Regions from separate parts of the Homo sapiens genome. Here region 2 is linked to region 1. Evidence: fine-mapped expression QTL. Tissue or cell type: whole blood. Region 1 holds a variant in brackets; the other region holds the start of a gene. All regions are shown on one strand. Distances are between the middles of the regions.

The links. PIP is the estimated chance that this variant, and not a neighbour inherited with it, causes the effect.
Region 2: PNPLA7 starts here. The variant in region 1 is fine-mapped to the expression of PNPLA7 in whole blood (TOPMed, PIP above 0.99). The same link has a PIP of 0.9 or more in lung.

The regions. Positions count from the first base shown.
Region 1 is chr9:137,407,820-137,415,819 of GRCh38, reverse strand. All of the region lies in intron 1 of EXD3 (exonuclease 3'-5' domain containing 3), which reads left to right. Among named protein-coding and RNA genes, the nearest start is that of EXD3, 11 kb to the left of the region's middle. The variant C/T (reference allele first, on the strand shown) is at 3,858.
Region 2 is chr9:137,547,380-137,555,379 of GRCh38, reverse strand. It overlaps PNPLA7 (patatin like domain 7, lysophospholipase), which reads left to right and starts at 4,978. Exons shown (of 35, transcript NM_001098537.3): 1 at 4,978-5,212; 2 at 7,721-7,795; 3 at 7,984-8,000. The coding sequence starts at 5,183. MRPL41 (mitochondrial ribosomal protein L41) reads right to left here and starts at 3,501. Exons shown (of 2, transcript NM_032477.3): 1 at 3,402-3,501; 2 at 2,825-3,306. The coding sequence starts at 3,298. The coding sequence ends at 2,885. It overlaps DPH7 (diphthamide biosynthesis 7), which reads left to right. Exons shown (of 9, transcript NM_138778.5): 9 at 1-936. The coding sequence ends at 141. It overlaps LOC124902317 (a long non-coding RNA gene), which reads left to right and starts at 1,700. Exons shown (of 2, transcript XR_007061883.1): 1 at 1,700-1,793; 2 at 2,679-2,853.

The DNA.
Region 1 (8,000 bases):
AAAACATGGTTTTTAAATGCTGTTTATCATTCATCAGATTCTACCTTGTGTGATCAGAACTGGGGTCCTTGGGAAAGCCCACCCTTGATGGGGGACTGTTGGCCCCAGCCCCGTCTGTGATGGTGACCCCAACATGTGCTGTTGGCACCTCCCAGAAAGGGTTCCCCAGAGCCCATGGGCCACCTGACCCGTCCTTGCAGCTGTCCCATGGTACATCCATGTGTTGTGGGCAGTGAGCTGCAGGGAGGTGGGGTGCACAGAGAAGCTTGCCGCAGAGCTAAAACCAACACGGTGAACAGGGAAGGTGTCCTTCAAAACCGCAGCCTGGGCAGGAGCAGTGGCTCCTGCCTGTAATCCCAGCACTTTAGGAGACCGAGGCAGGCTGATCACCTGAGGTCAGGAATTCGAGACCAGCCTGGCGAACATGGAGAGACCCTGTCTCTACTAAAATTACAAAAATTAGCTGTGCATGCCTGTAATCCCAGCCACTCAGGAGGCTGAGGCAGGAAAACGGTTTGAACCCGGGAGGCGGAGGTTGCAGTCAGCTGAGATCGCCCCACTGCACTCCAGCCTGGGCAACAGAGCAAGACTCCATCTCAAAAAACAGAAAAAAAAAAAACAAACCTGTGACAGGCCCAGCGCAGTGGCTCACGCCTGTAATCCCAGCATTTTGAGAGGCCGAGGTGGGCGGATTGCTTGTGGTCAGGAGTTCAAGACCATCCTGGCCAACATGATGAAACCGCGTCTCTACTAAAAATACAAAAATTAGCTGGGCGTGGTGGCAGGCACCTGTAATCCCAGCTACTCGGGAGGCTGAGGCAGGAGAATCACTTGAACCCTGGAGGCAAAGCTTGCAGTGAGCCGAGATCGCCCCCCTGCACTCCAGCTTGGGCGACAAAGTGAGATTCCGTCTCAGCCTGGACAACAGAGCGAGACTCCATCTCAAAAACATAAAAACAAACATACAAAGAAACCCTGCGACCTACGTGGAGCCCACGGGGGCCAAACATGCCAGCACCCCCCTGGAGTGGCGGTGTGGGACCCCACACCTGTCACACCTGCTGGCCTCCTTCTCCATCTCCTGTGCAATATCCCTGGAAAGTTACTTTTTGTGTTTAAAATTGGTCATGTTAATTGTTAAGGAAAGGAACAATCCTTAAGTTAAATTGGTAAGTTTAAAAAAACGAAAGACAGACCGCAACAGGCGTTGGTGAGGCTGTGGAGAAATCAGAACCCTCGTGTGTTATCGATGCTAGCGTAAAATGGCACGTCCACTGTGGAAACAGTCTGGTAGTTCCTCAAAAAGCTAAACATAGAAACACCGAGACTCAGCAGCTCCAGTCCTAGGAATGTGTGTCCCCAGATCAGTGAAAACACACTCCACACAGAAACATGCACACAGCTGTTCACAGCAGCACTGTTTATAACAGCCAGACAAGGGGGTGCGGCCCGAATGTCTGCTGGACAAACAGCCCGTGGTCTGTGCACACAGTGGGGCAGGACTCAGCCACGGAAAGGCAGTTCCAGCACATGCTGCTGCAGGGATGAGTTTTGAAGACACCATGCCAAGTGAGGTCAGTCAGCCACAAGAGAACAGAACCTTGGCCGGGCGCGGTGGCTCACGCCTGTAATCCCAGCACTTTGGGAGGCCAAGGGAGGTGGATCACGAGGTCAGGAGATCGAGACCATCCTGGCTAACACACAGTGAAACCCCGTCTCTACTAAAAATACAAAAATTAGCCGGGCGTGGTGGCGGACGCCTGTAGTCCCAGCTACTCGGGAGGCTGAGGCAGGAGAATGGCGTAAACCCGGGAGGCAGAGCTTGCAGTGAGCCGAGATGGCACCACTGCACTCCAGCCTGAGCAACAGAGTGAGACTCCGTCTCAAAAAAAAAAAAAAAGAAAAAAAAAACAACAGAACCTGTGTGGTCTCCTTTATAGGAAATGCCCAAAATAGAAAGATTCACAGAGACACAAAATGGCCAGGGGCTGAGGAGGGGCAGAGGGAGTAATTGTTGATGGGCACATGGTTGGTTGTCTTTGGGGCAATGAAAATGTTCTGGGCTGAGGCAAGTGGATCACGTGAGGTCAGGAGTTCAAGACCAGCCTGGCCAAACATGGCAACACCCCGTCTCTACCAGAAATATAAAACTTAGCCGGGTGTGGTAGTGGGCGCCTGTAGTCCCAGCTACTCAGGAGACTTAGGCACAAGAATCACTTGAGCCAGGAGGCGGTTACAGTGAGCTGGGATCGCACCACTGCACTCCACCCTGGGTGACAGAGCGAGACCCTGTCTCAAAAAAAAAAAAAAAAAAAAGCTAGGCCAGGCGCGGTGGCTCATGCCTGTAATCCCAACACTTTGAGAGGCTGATGCGGGCAGATCACAAGGTCAGGAGATCAAGACCATCCTGGCTAACACGGTGAAACCCCGTCTCTACTAAAAATACAAAAAATTAGCCGGGCGTGGTGGCAGGCGCCTATAGTCCCAGCTACTCGGGAGGCTGAGGCAGGAGAATGGCGTGAACCCGGGAGGCGGAGCTTGCAGTGAGCCAAGATCACGCCACTGCACTCCAGCCTGGGCGACGGAGTGAGACTCCGTCTCAAAAAAAAAAGTTCTGGAGTTGGATAGTGGTGATGGTGACTCATGTATGTGAACATGTTGAAAACACCGAGTTGTAACTTTGAGGGTAAATTTTATGGTATGTGAATTATATCTCAAAGTTATAGAGCAGTTACTGAGGCTGGGTGTGGTGGCTCACGCCTGTAATCCCAGCACTTAGGGAGGTTGAGGCAGGAGGATTACCGAGCTCAGGAGTTTGAGACCAGTCTGGGTGACGTAGTGAGACCCCATCTCTACAAAAAATACCCCTCCCAAAATTATCCAGGTGTAGCGTGCACTCCGGTGGTCCCAGCTACTCAGGAGGCTGAGGTGGGAGGATCGTTTGAGCCCTGGAGATTGAGGCTGCCGTGAGCCGTGATCGCCCCACCGCACTCCATCCTGGGCGACAGTGAGACCCTGTCTCAAAAAAATTAAATAAAAATGGTCACTGAGATGGTAAACACATGGAATTCCCTTTGAAGCCAGTGGACACAGTGTGTGAGTCAAGGCTGCTGTTCACTGAGGAGGCCTGAACTCCCTCCCGAGGGGCCCCGGCTGTGCGTGGCCATCTTGCCAGCATCAGCTCATCCTGCTGTGCCCTCGTGCCTCTGGGGGCTGCTCCCGGGGGGCTCTGGGGTATCCACCCTGTCCCATGTGGAATGTTTCTGGTTCCCACTGACACTGTTTGGGGAGTGGTGGCCGCGGGGCTGTTTGCTTCTCCTGGAAGGGCCCCGGTGGGCACCTGGAGCTTTATGACGAGGAGGCTTTTAAGTTTTCTTGTAGACACATTTAAAAACTGAGAAACAAGTGAATTTATTTTAATAATATATTTTATTTAACTCCAGTATGCCCAAAATATTTCCATTTCCACATGCAGTCGATATAAAAAGCTGTCACAGAGATATTGACCCTTCTCTAATCACGTGTCTTGCACTTTCAGCTGTGGCTGCTGTGTCAGACAATATGAGGTGGGGAGGGGACAGGCCTTGGAGGCCTCCTTTGGGATCAACAGCTTCTGGGGGCTCTGAAGCCAGTGTTGCCCGCCCACTCGCTCTGGGTCTCAGGCCGGCCTCCAGCCCCCTGTCCTTGCCGCATCCTGGGGGTGGCGGCTGCAGGGCCCTCAAGGTTGGCGCTCTCAGAAGAGGGCAGTAAGGCCGGCTCTGTGGGGGTGGGGGAGCCTGGGAGCCCCCCATCGGGGTGCCAGGGAGACCTGGGGGGCACACAGCCCACTCTCTTGCCGCCTCCCGCCCTCCTGGCCA[C/T]GCCTGCTGGCGGCACAAGGCCCACCTGGAGGGCCCACCGGTCCTCAGGGAAACACCACAGAAAAACCGCAGAGGAAGCGTGACCTGGCGCCCGGACAAGAATGCAGGGTGGCCCGGCTTCCAGTCCGTCTTGGGTGACTCACTGCGGTGTGCAGAAAACACCATTGTGCACCGCGGCCACAGGAAGCCCTCCGCCTCCCCGACTCCCTCCCACTCCCCCACCCCCTCCCCCTCCCCCACCCATCCCCCTCCCCCCAACCTCCCCCACCCCCGCCTCCGCCTGCCGCTCCTTTTCCAGGTCCCGGGGCTGGTGGTGCTGTGGCACCGATGGAGAGACTGACGGCCGCCGCTGGCCTGCCATGGCCACCTCTGAGCCTCTGCCAGCAACCTGGGTTCTTGTGGGGTCCTTCAAGGTCGGCCTGTTCAGGGGTCGTTTGAGGGAGCTTTGGGTCCTACTTGAGGGCGAAGCTTCGAGGGAGGGGCCCCTGCACATCCTGTTGGTCCCGCCGGTCCCGCCTTCCTGTGGAGGCTCCCTGGGAGGCCGCCGGGTGTCTGGCCAGGCCTCCCAGGAAACCGAGGAGCAGGGCTGCCCCCCATCCTGCCTCAGAGCCCATCTCCGGAGCAAGCCCCATGCCCAGGGCTCGGGGGCAGCTGTGCCTTCGCTGGTTTCCTTCTCTGGGAAGGGGGCATCCTGGGCTCAGCTGGGTTTGGGGTGAAGATGAGCCTTTCTGGGCGTGCGTGCCCCTCCCACGCCTGCGCTCCATTCGGCATCATCTACTCCATCTCACGGCCAGGCCTGGGACTCCCCACCCGGGGGGCCGGCCTCGGGGCCTCAGCCGGAATCTGCTACAGGTTCTGCGGTGGTCCAGGGGCCCTAGAGGTGCCAGCCTATGCCCACCTGGACACCTGCTCAGCGCACAGGGCAGCCACAGCCAATGACCGAAATCTGCACTGAGGCTGGGGGCTGGGGCTCCAGGCACAGTCACCTGCAGTCCCCTGAGACGCCTGGACCTCACTCAGGCCCTGGGGGGTCTGCCAGGCTCTGTGGGAAAGCACTGAGGCCGGGGGCTGGGGCTCCAGGCACAGTCACCTGCAGAGCCTTGGACCTCACTCAGGCCCTGGGGGTCTGCCAGGCTCTGTGGGAAAGGACACAGCCCTCGCCCTGCCCCCCGCCCTCAGCAGCGTCGCCTCCACAGTGAGTCAGGCACGTCCCCCGTGGGTCACCTCCTCCATGCCAGGCCGCCCCCAGGGGGGCTTCCTCGTTGTGCAGTTCTGCCCCGTGTGGGTAGGGACCCAGCTGTGTCGTCTCCCTGGGTGTGGATCGTGGGGCCAGGGAACAAGAGCCTCTGGGGTTCTCAGAACCCAACGTTCTGTGGTCACAGGACTCATGGCAACAATTTGGCTTGAGTTAGCACCTTTCAGAAGAAATGAAGACACTTAAAAGGGTTGGTTGTTAATTTTTTTTTTTTTTTTTTTTTGAGACAGAGTTTCGCTCTGTCGCCCAGGCTGGAATGCGGTGGTGCAATCTCAGCTCACTGCAACCTCCACCTCCTGGGTTCAAGTGATTCTCCTGCCTCACCCTCCCAGGTAGCTGAGATTACAGGCACCCACCACCGCGCCTGGCTAATTTTTGTATTTTTAGTAGAGACGGGATTTCACCATGTTGGCCAGGCTGGTTTTGAACTCCTGGCCTCAAGTGATCTGCCCTCCTCAGGCTCCCACAGTGCTAGGATTGCAGGCATGAGCCACTGTGCCCAGCTGTTGGTTGTTAATTATTTTTGTTTTTTGAGACGGAGTTTAGCTCCTGTTGCCCAGCTGGAGTGTAGTGGCACGGTCTCGGCTCACTGCAACCTTCATCTCCCAGGTTCACACCATTCTCCTGCCTCAACGTCCCGAGTAGCTGGGATTACAGGCACCTGCCACCATGCCCAGCTAATTTTTTGTATTTTTAGTAGAGACAGGGTTTCACCATGTTGGCCAGGCTGGTCTCGAACTACTGACCTTGTGATCCGTCCGCCTCAGCCTCCTAAAGTGCTGGGATTACGGGCGTGAGCCACCGCGCCCAGCCAGCAGTTGTTAATTTTAAGTGGAAGCTGCAAAACTGGTGAGTGGTGTCGCCCCATCAGGGAGCTGGGGAGCCCCGCTTGTCCTGGTGTGGGCTTGGGACCTGGCACCACGTTCCGAGAAAGATGCTGAGAGATCCAGACAGGCTTTTTCATCCTAAAATGAGGCCAGTTACAGAGAGTGTGCAGCGAGGGAATGTGAACTGAATCCTTGCCAGCCGTTTCCATTCTCAGTCACATCAGCCCATGTCTCCACTTGGCCATTTTTAGGTCCAGGGCTTTGTAGACACAGCTCCCTCCCTACACGCCGCATGCCACCATGCCTGGATAGATACCTGTTTTTTTCATAGAAACAGAGTCTCGCTATGTTACCCAGGCTGGTCTCAAACTCCTGGACTCAAGCAATCCGCCTGCTTTGGCCTCCCAAAGTGGTGGGATCAAAGGTGTGAGCCACCACGCCGGGCCAGTTTTCTGTTAACTTAAAACACAATATCTAAAACTGGGTAATTTATAAAGAAAAGGAATTTATTTCTTACAGCTCTGGAGGCTAAGTCTAAGGGTGAGGGGAGCATCCGAGGAGGCGTTCATGCTGGCGGGATTCTGAATGAGGAGGTATTCATGCTGGTGGGACTCCGAAGGGTCCTGAGGCGGCTCGGGGCAGCCATGGTGAGGGCCCAGCATGCGGGCTCAGGCCTCAGGCCTCTCCTCCTCCTCTTATAAAGCCACCAGTTCCACTCCCGTGATAACCCAGGAATCCATGAATGGATTAATCCCTCCAGTGGGGCAGGATCCTCACCCCCCGGGCACGTCCCAAGGCCCCACCTTGAAACGCCGCAGCATGGTGATGGAATTCCAGCGTGTTTCAGAGGGACACACTTTAAATTATAGCAGCCGCCCTCCCACAGAAGGGACAGGCCGACTGCCCCCTTCCCAGGCTGATCAGCAAAGTGAGTGCCATCGGGGCCTTGTACAAGTTCATCCTGAGCTCAGGGATAAAAACAGCCCTGCAGACTTGTGGAGAGGGGCTGACCCAGCCTGATGGTGAGAGACAAGCTGCGCCCGGGTCCTGGGCCTGTGCGCCCGCTGGCCTGGCTTCCCTGTACAGGGTGGGTCTGTCCATTCCGATTGGCTCGAGGCTCCACCTTTTTTAAAGAGGATCTTGGAACTCACAGCCCACTCAAGGGACGCAGATAAAAGGCCCCCAGTCTCAGATTTGGGGTTACCATTGGTCTGAGGGGCCGGTTCAGCTGTGCTGGACGTCCCTGGAGGGCCTTGCTGAGCAGCTGGGGGGAGGTGTGGGGGCCGTAGGGGCTGCTGTCTCCCCCAGAGCCCTCTTTTTTTTTTTTTTTTTTTGAGGCAGAGTCTCACTCTATCGCCCAGGCTGGAGTGTAGTGGTGCGATCTCGGCTCACTGCAAGCTCCACCTCCCGGGTTCACGCCATTCACCTGCCTCAGCCTCCGGAGTAGCTGGGACTACAGGCGCCCGCCACCACGCCCGGCAAATTTTTATATTTTTAGTAGAGACGGGGTTTCACCGTGTTAACCAGGATGGTCTCGATCTCCTGACCTCGTGATCCTCCCGCCTCAGCTTCCCAAAGTGCTGGGATTACAGGCGTGAGCGACCATGCCCGGCCCCCCCACCCCAAAGCCCTCTTAAAAGCCCCTTGGGAGCTTTGGGGCACGTGCAGGGCCGGCCAAATGTTGGAGGAGACACATCCAGGCGCCCAGAGGAAGAGTCACTGTTGGGTTTTAGTAAAACACCCACGCAGCGCAGTCGAACGTGAGGAGGAGGGGCTGGGCTTCAGAGCTTTCTGGAGACACAGCAAGGAGGTTGGGCCAGGGAGACCCTTGGAGGCCTGAGGCTGGGAGACCACAGGAGGCATGAGGGTGGGAGATCCCCAGAGGCATGAGGCTGGGGAGACCCCCGGAGGCGTGAGGCTGGAAAACCCCTGGAGGCTTGAGGCTCCGCATTTGTGTGCTGCGGGGCCTGGGGTGTCCATGGTGCCCAAGGGGAAAGCCCCCTCCGGCCTCCCCCCAGACCCTTTGCTGTGCCCCTCCCGCCTCCCGCCTCCCGCGTGTGT
Region 2 (8,000 bases), 140 kb before region 1:
GGCACCTGGCTGCAGGCTACAGCAGCCACCACACGTGACTGTGGCGTGAACCCAGAAGAAGCAGACTCAGCCTTCAGCCTCCTGGCCACCTGCTCCTTCTATGACCATGCGCTCCACCTCTGGGAGTGGGAGGGGAACTGAGCTTGAAATCATGAAGCCCCTTCCCACAAGGAAACCAGGAGGGAGACTGCGAGTGAGTGCCCGGGACCACCTCATCAGAGATGCTTACTGCAGCCCTGCAGGTGCCTGTGCACTGATGGAATCCACAGTGTAGTCAGAAAAGCTGTTGACTTCTCTTAAATCAGCTTCCCTGCTGGGCCCCTGAAAGTGGACTGGGTGATTCTGTCTGGCAGAGAGTGGGGAAAAGACGCGGTTTCCAGCTTGCAGATTTGTTAAGTTTCTCAGGCAGATTTTGACTTTCAGCCTTTCATACTTGTTTAAGCAACTATTTGTATTAAATGAAGTTTTTTGAAAAACACGAGTTTATAACATGTTTAAAATGAACATTTTATGCCTCATCATGGCACCAGAAATGCTTGTATAGATTGAGCACAGCCAGTCCAAAAATCCAAAATCCCAAAACTTTTGGAAAATCCCGCAGCTGAACTCATGTGACGGGTTGCATATATTATTAAAACTACTGAGCACAGTCACAGTGGCCTGTAATCCCAGCACTTTGGAAGGGGCTGAGGCAGGAGGATTGCTTGAGGCCTGGAGTTCAAGACCAGCCTGGGCAACATAGCAAAACCCAGTCTCTATAAAAAGTAAAACAAAAATTAGCCAGGTGTGGTGCATGTGCCTATGGTCCCAGCCACTTGGGAGGCTGAGGCAGGAGGATTGTTGAGCCCAGGAGGTCGAGGCTGCAATGAGCCAGGGGCAACAGAGCAAGACTCTTATCTCTAAAAATTAAATAATAAAAAATTGTATAAACAATAATTGAGGACAACCAGTTACAGATTCATTCCTTCTCTCACAGCTTCATTTGACTAGCCTAAAAAACATATATATTGTATAAAACTACCCTCAGGCTATGTGTATAAGGTGTACATGAAACAAAATTGAATTTCATGTTTAGACTTGTATCTCATCTCATCCCCAAGATGTCTCATTATGTACATGCAGATATTCCAAAATCTGAAATCCAAAACATTTCTGGTTCCAAGCTTTTTTTTTTTTTGCCCCCCGAGATGGAGTTTTGCTCTTGCTGCCCAGGCTGGGGTGCAATGGCACAATCTTGACTCACTGCAACCTCCGCCTCCCAAGTTCAAGCGATTCTCCTGCCTCACCCTCCCAATAGCTGGCATCCACCAGCATGCCCGGCTAATTTTGTATATTTAGTAGAGACAAGGTTTCTCCATGTTGGTCAGGCTGCTCTCAAACTCTGGACCTCAGGTGATCCGTCCACCTTGGCCGCCCAAAGTGCCGGGATTACAGGCGTTGAGCTGTGCCTTTTTTTTTTTTTGAGACAGAGTCATGCTCGTCACCCAGGCTGGAGTGCAGTGGCTCAATCTCGGTGGCTCCATCTCGACTCACTGCCCTCCACCTCCCAGGTTCAAGTGATTCTCCTGCCTCAGCCTCCGGAGTAGCTGGGATTACAGGTGTGTGCCACCATGCCTGGCTAATTTTTGTATTTTTAGTACAAATGGGGTTTCACCATGTTGGCCAGGCTCCTGACCTCAGATGACCCGCCTGTCTCGGCTTCCCAAAGTGCTGGGATTACAGGCATGAGCCAGGGCGCCCAGCCCCAAGCATTTTGGATAACGACGCTCAACCTGTATTGGATCCCTATGCAGGTAAGTAAAAGGGAGTGTGTGTTCCAAGTTGCCTTGGGGGTCATCAGCTTGAAATATGTGAAGTCTGTAGGGAACACTCATCACTGCAGCACCCACACGGGTTAGCTCCCAAATACTGGACAGATGGTGACTTTAGGTGTGTGAACAAACTGGGTGTGTTACATCCAACTCCTGCTGTGAGGGCTTTTGTCTCTCTGGGAGGAACTGTGGTTGAGGTACAGGCCACTATTTGTCAAATCCTCAGCATTTACTAATGATACATAGGTGACTACAAGCAAAAAAACATGCAGTTTTATCCCTTTTTTGAGACGGAGTCTCACTCTGTTACCCAGGCTGGAGTGCAGTGGTGCGATCTCGACTCACTGCAAGCTCTGCCTCCTGGGTTTAAGCGATTCTCTTGCCTTTGGAGTAGCTGGGACTACAGTCGCACGCCACCACGCCTGGCTAATTTTTGTATTTTTAGTAGAGATGGGGTTTCATCATGCTGGCCAGGCTGGTCTTGAACTCCTAATCTTGTGATCCTCCCGCCTCAGCCTCCCAATGTGCTGGGATTACAGGCGTGAGCCACCGCACCTGGCCTTATCCCTTTCTTCTTTTCTGATGATACAACACAACATGTCACTATATGTCAGATTGCAACAGGAAATTTTCCTAGGCTGGGCGCAGTGGCTCACACCTGTAATCCCAGCATTTTGGGAGGCTGAGGCGGGCGGATCATTTCAGCCCATGAGTTCTCAGCCTGGGCAGCATAGTGAGACCCCCATCTCTGTATCTTTGTTCCCTGGGTGAATAATTTGGGGGATGAACTGACCAGTGCTGTCATCCGGCACAATCTGCCTTGTAAATTCTTTCTCCTGCAAGCTGAGTGATGTTTGCCCTTGGCAGGTTCCCAGAACCTTCGGACTCGGAAGATGACCTCCAAAGAGGTTCACAGCGCCGAGTCTGCATGAGAACTCGGCTTAGGTGCCTGCACTGAAATCTGTCATGCTGCACACTTTGCCATGACCTGAGGCCAAAAAACAAACACCGTATAGCTGGCAAAGGCGTTTAATAGAAATGAGATGAGGGCAGGCCGCCCCTCCCCCGCCCAGCTAGCGCAGGAAGTTCCTGGGGTAGAGCTGGAAGAGCTTTCCCTCCTGTGTGGGCTCGAAGCCGTACTTTTCCAGGTTGTCAGGGTCGAAGGTACCGTCCTTGAAGTCCTTTTCGATGGCAGGCGCCACGGCTTCGCTGAAGAGCTGCGCGGCCGTCAGGGGCGTCTCCTCGCTCTCAGGGGCGAGGTAGCTCACGTAGGGCTTGAGCTTGAAGCCGGTCAGATCCGGGACGACGAACTCCGGGACCATCTCCTTGATCTGCACGAACCTCCAGCCCGAGGTGAGGAAGCCGATGCCCTTGGCGCCCCGGCCCTTGCGGCCCCTGAAGCTGCGCGGGCCCCGCTTGCTCGTCCACTTGCTCATTCGGTCCGCACCCCGGACCAGGCAGCGCGCCGCTGCGGCCAGGACGCCCATGCCGCGCCCTGCGGGAGGAGAGAGCGGGTAGTCGCGGCCCCGGGAACCCGGCCAGCCCCGCCCCTGGCCGCGCGCGGCGCCCGCCCCAATCCGACAGACTCACCTGGACCGGAGACCCCACACGAGCTCCAAGCGGCCCCGGCTCCGGCGCCAACCCGGCCTCGACCTTGCTCCGCTTCCGACCGCTGCGTCGCAGCAAGAGCGGCTCCGATTGGCCGCGGCCGCCGCGTCCAATAGCGGCCCCAATCTGGTAGGGGGTGTGGCCGCGGGGACTCGGCCAATGCGAGGAGCGCGCGGGGCGGGGCGGGGCTCGCGGGGCTGGCGGTGCGGGGCCGGCGGTGCGGGGCTCGCGGGGCGGGGCTCGCGGGGCGGGGCTCGCGGGGCGGGGCTCGCGGGGCGGGGCTCGCGGGGCGGGGCTCGCGGGGCGGGGCTGGCGGATGAGTGATCGCTCTCAGCGCGGTGGTCCCTGGCGTCTCCACTGCCCGCCACTGCCTGTGTTCGTCCGCCAGGTGGCCGGCGGTTTCCCGGGAGCCCAGTCCCCCTGAGGCCGTGAGGTGGCGTCGGGAGGTCGGGGAGGACGCGGGCCCTGGACTCGAGACGGCCGCCGCGTTGACGCCGCGACCCTGCCTTTCTTACCCCTCCGCCGGGCGCGGCTCCTCTGGGCGGAGCCGGCAACCGCGCGGGGAAAGCCCGGGACCTGCAGCCGGGAGGGCCCGGGCTGTCTGTGCTCCCCCGCAGGCCGGGCAGTGGTGTGGGGGGACTCGAGCCCTCGCGGTGCCCAAATTAATCAATAATCTTGGACCCAGCACGTCCGGCTTGCGCACTGAGCCCTCCTGCCCGGTCACCCTCGCAGGCGACCTCTCACCCCACGCGGAAGTCGCCCCCCAGCCGCACCCTCACAATCCGGATCCACCCCCTCCCCAGCTGCACCCCGTCCCCAGCGGCACCCCCACAGCCCAGATCCATCCCCTCTCCAGCTGCACGCCCTTCCCCAGCGGTACCCCCACACCCCAGATCCATCCCCTCCCCAGCTGCACCCCCTCCCCAGCGGCACCCCCACGCCCCAGATCCACCCCCTCCCCAGCTGCACCCCCTCCCCAGCGGCACCCCCACGCCCCAGATCCACCCCCTCCCCAGCTGCACCCCCTCCCCAGCGGCACCCCCACACCCCAGATCCACCCCCTCCCCAGCTGCACCCCCTCCCTAGCGGTACCCCCACTCGCCGGATCCACGCGCTCCCCAGCTGCACCCTCTCCCCAGCAGTACCCCCACACCCCAGATCCACCCCCTCCCCAGCTGCACCCACTCCCCAGCGGTACCCCTACACGCCGGATCCACCCCCTCCCCAGCTGCACCCACTCCCCAGCGGCACCCCCACACCCCAGATCCACCCCCTCCCCAGCTGCACCCACTCCCCAGCGGTACCCCTACACGCCGGATCCACCCCCTCCCCAGCTGCACCCTCCTCCCCAGCTGCATCCCCACACCCCGGATCCACGCCCCGCCAGCGTCACCTCCCCTCCAGCCGTGCTTCTCCAGAAGGCAGCGCTGCCCCCATCCCCGCCGCGCTGGGCCTGGCTCCTCTTGACCTGCTTGGATACGCCCCATCTGGCTGCTGTTCTGGGTTCCGGGACAGCCACGTGAGGGCTGTTTACAGAGGGAAGGAGGTGGCTCCTAGCAGATGACAGACACTTCTCAAAAGACAGCTTTTCTTCCTGGAGAACAGACTTTTTCAGCAGGATTTTCCTTTCAGTGAAACATAATTTGACTTGAAAGGAACCCAGGGAAAAGTGTCCAGGTGTGAGCATGAGCGGGTAGAGGTGTGCCCTTGTTTGCTTCAGGCTGTCTGCTTTTCGCCCCTGACTGTTTTTTCTGTTTCTGGCCATGGAGGAAGAGAAAGATGACAGCCCACAGGTATGTAACTCGGGGGACCAGATGCCTGGATTTCCCAGTTGGGGGGCATTTCTGGACCCAGAGAAGGGTCCTCTTGGCGTCTGCTCTGCCGCGCTCTTTGGCCCCGTGGCTTCTTGGCGCCTGAGGACTGTGGGAGTGGTGGATCTGGCCCCTCTCTGCTGCCTGTCACAGCTGCCAGCACTTGTTAGACGCGCCTGTCACAGCAGACAGCCAGTGGTGGCCCATGGGCATTGTTCACAGCGAGGGCAGCCAGCGGTGGCCCATGGGCATTGCCTGAGGCCTTGTCTTTTCTTCCCCTAAGGTCACAGTTGCTACTTCCAGTTCCTTTAGGACTTTGCCTGATGGTTTTGCTTAGAACCTTTTTCTGTGTTTTTTTTTTTCCCAAGACGGAGTCTCGCTCTGTCGCCCAGGCTGGTGTGCAATGGTGTGATCTTGGCTCACAGCAACCTCCGCCTCCTGGGTTCAGGCAATTCTGCCTCAGCCTCCCGGGTAGCTGGGACTACAGGCACCACGCCCGGCTAATTTTTGTATTCTTAGTAGAAACGGGGTTTCGCCATGTTGGCCAGGCTGGTCTTGAACTTTTTTTTTTTTTTTTTTTGAGACGGAGTCTTGCTCTGTCGCCCAAGCTGGATTGCAGTGGCACGATCTCAACTCACTGCAAGCTCTGCCTCCCAGGTTCACGCCATTCTCCTGCCTCGGCCTCCCAAGTAGCTGGGACTACAGGCGCCCACCACCACGCCCGGCTAATATTTTTTTGTATTTTCAGTAGAGACGGTGTTTCACTGTGTTAGCCAGGATGGTCTCGATTTCCTGACCTCGTGATCCGCCCGCCTTGGCCTCCCAAAGTGCAGGGATTACAGGCATGAGCCACCGTGCCCGGCCTAGTCTTGAACTCTTGACCTCATGATCTGCCCGCCTCGGCCTCCCAAAGTGCTGGGATTACAGGCGTGAGACACTGTGCCCAGCCCTAGAATCTTTTTCTTAGTCAAACATCTGTAGCCACATGGCAAAGGCCTTATTTCCTAAACCAGAACACTGGACCCATTAAAGCAACAGTGAAAAGCTAGAAAAGGCTGAGCCGCTCCACCGCAGGAGAGCCTGTGACCAGGTCACGGGCCATCGCGTGATAGGCCTTCCTTGGATAATCGGTCCCAGAAGCGGTTGCTGGGCTGAGGGACTCACTTCGCTTCCTTAAGTGAGGGACATGGTCGTAGGTGCTTCTCTGCTCCCCACCTGGTTGAGAGTGAGCGTAGGGGTTCCCCTGTCCTGAAGCAGAAGCTCCCAGGGCTTGTATTTGCTTCTGAACCAAGTTCGAAGGGCTCAGCTTTCTGGGCACGTCCTCATTCTGTCTTGGTGCAGAATTGTGTCTTTAAATGCGTTTCTGAGTGCTCTTCTGACTTCCCTGAGTTTTCTTTTTTTTGAGATGGAGTCTCGCTCTGTCGCCCAGGCTGGAGTGCAGTAGCACAATCTCAGCTCACTGCAAGCTCTGCCTCCCGGGTTCACGCCATTCTCCTGCCTCAGCCTCCCAAGTAGCTGGGACTACAGGCACCCACCACCACGCCCGGCTAATTTTTGAATTTTTAGTAGAGACGGGGTTTCACCGTGTTAGCCAGGATGGTCTCGATCTCCTGACCTCATGATCCGCCCGCCTCAGCCTCCCAAAGTGCTGGGATTGCAGGCGTGAGCCACTGCGCCCGGCCCTTCCCTGGATTTTCTGGCACGGATGGGAGTCCTGCTCTCTGCAGTGAGGCGGGGGTGGGTGTTGTTTTAGGCCTTGGCTCTTGTGTAGAAACTTTCAGGCTGAACCAGTGGCTTCCCCTGCCCTATCCGGTTCCTGGCTGCCTGGGAGGAAGGTGTGATGCCAGCAGGAATGGAGAGGGCTGCCTGTCTGGCTGGTGTCGTCTTCTCGTCTTCTCGTTTTCTCTTTCACTTCTTGGAACCACCAGCGTCCTCTGCTGTCGTTCACTCACCATCCTGCCCTCACCCTCTCTTCCCTCCCTCCCGCGGACCTGGACTTCTGAAGTCCTGCTGCTCCAGGAGACTGCAGGACACAGAGCCTTCTCGGCCGCTGCCTCCTTGTTTGGCATGTGAACTGGTGTTGAATGTTCTCAGAATCCAGATGGCTCATAGGGGTTTTGAGCACTGCTCCTGCTGGGGCTGAGGCGACACTGAGAGGGGGGCCTTGGCCTCCCCTTTGGCCAGGCCTGCTCCCTGAGACCTGCATCCCAAGGATTGCATCACCAGCATGTGGGTGTGTTAGTGATGCCTGGGGCAGCCGCTGGCCCTGCCCCACTGTATCCCAGTGACTGAGGGAGCCAGGTTGCTCTCTGAGTGCTTCCTAGCAGGGGGCTCAGAGGACCCCGGCACCCCGGGCGAGATCACTTCTTCCCAGAAGTCTCCAGGGCTGCTGACTTCTCCCCTAACTCCCAGCTCTCCTCCTGCTGCTCTGAACAAGTTCGGGCTGGGAAGCCTGTCCATGCCCACCTGACCCCATGCTCTCTGCTGCAGGCTGACTTCTGCCTGGGCACCGCCCTGCACTCTTGGGGACTGTGGTTCACGGAGGAAGGTTCACCGTCCACCATGGTAATCACCTCACGCTTCCCTGGAGCCAGACCTGGATGGGCCGTGGCCTTTTTCACCTCTCCCTGTCCCCATCCCCTGGCTCATTCCTGCCCAGCCTGTGGTTGGGCAGCCAGGGGTGGGGGCAGGCTTAGGGCTAGGGTTAGGTTTGTGGCTTTGCTGATGGGCGCCGTGTTTCCACTCTCGGCCAGCTGACGGGGATTGCAGT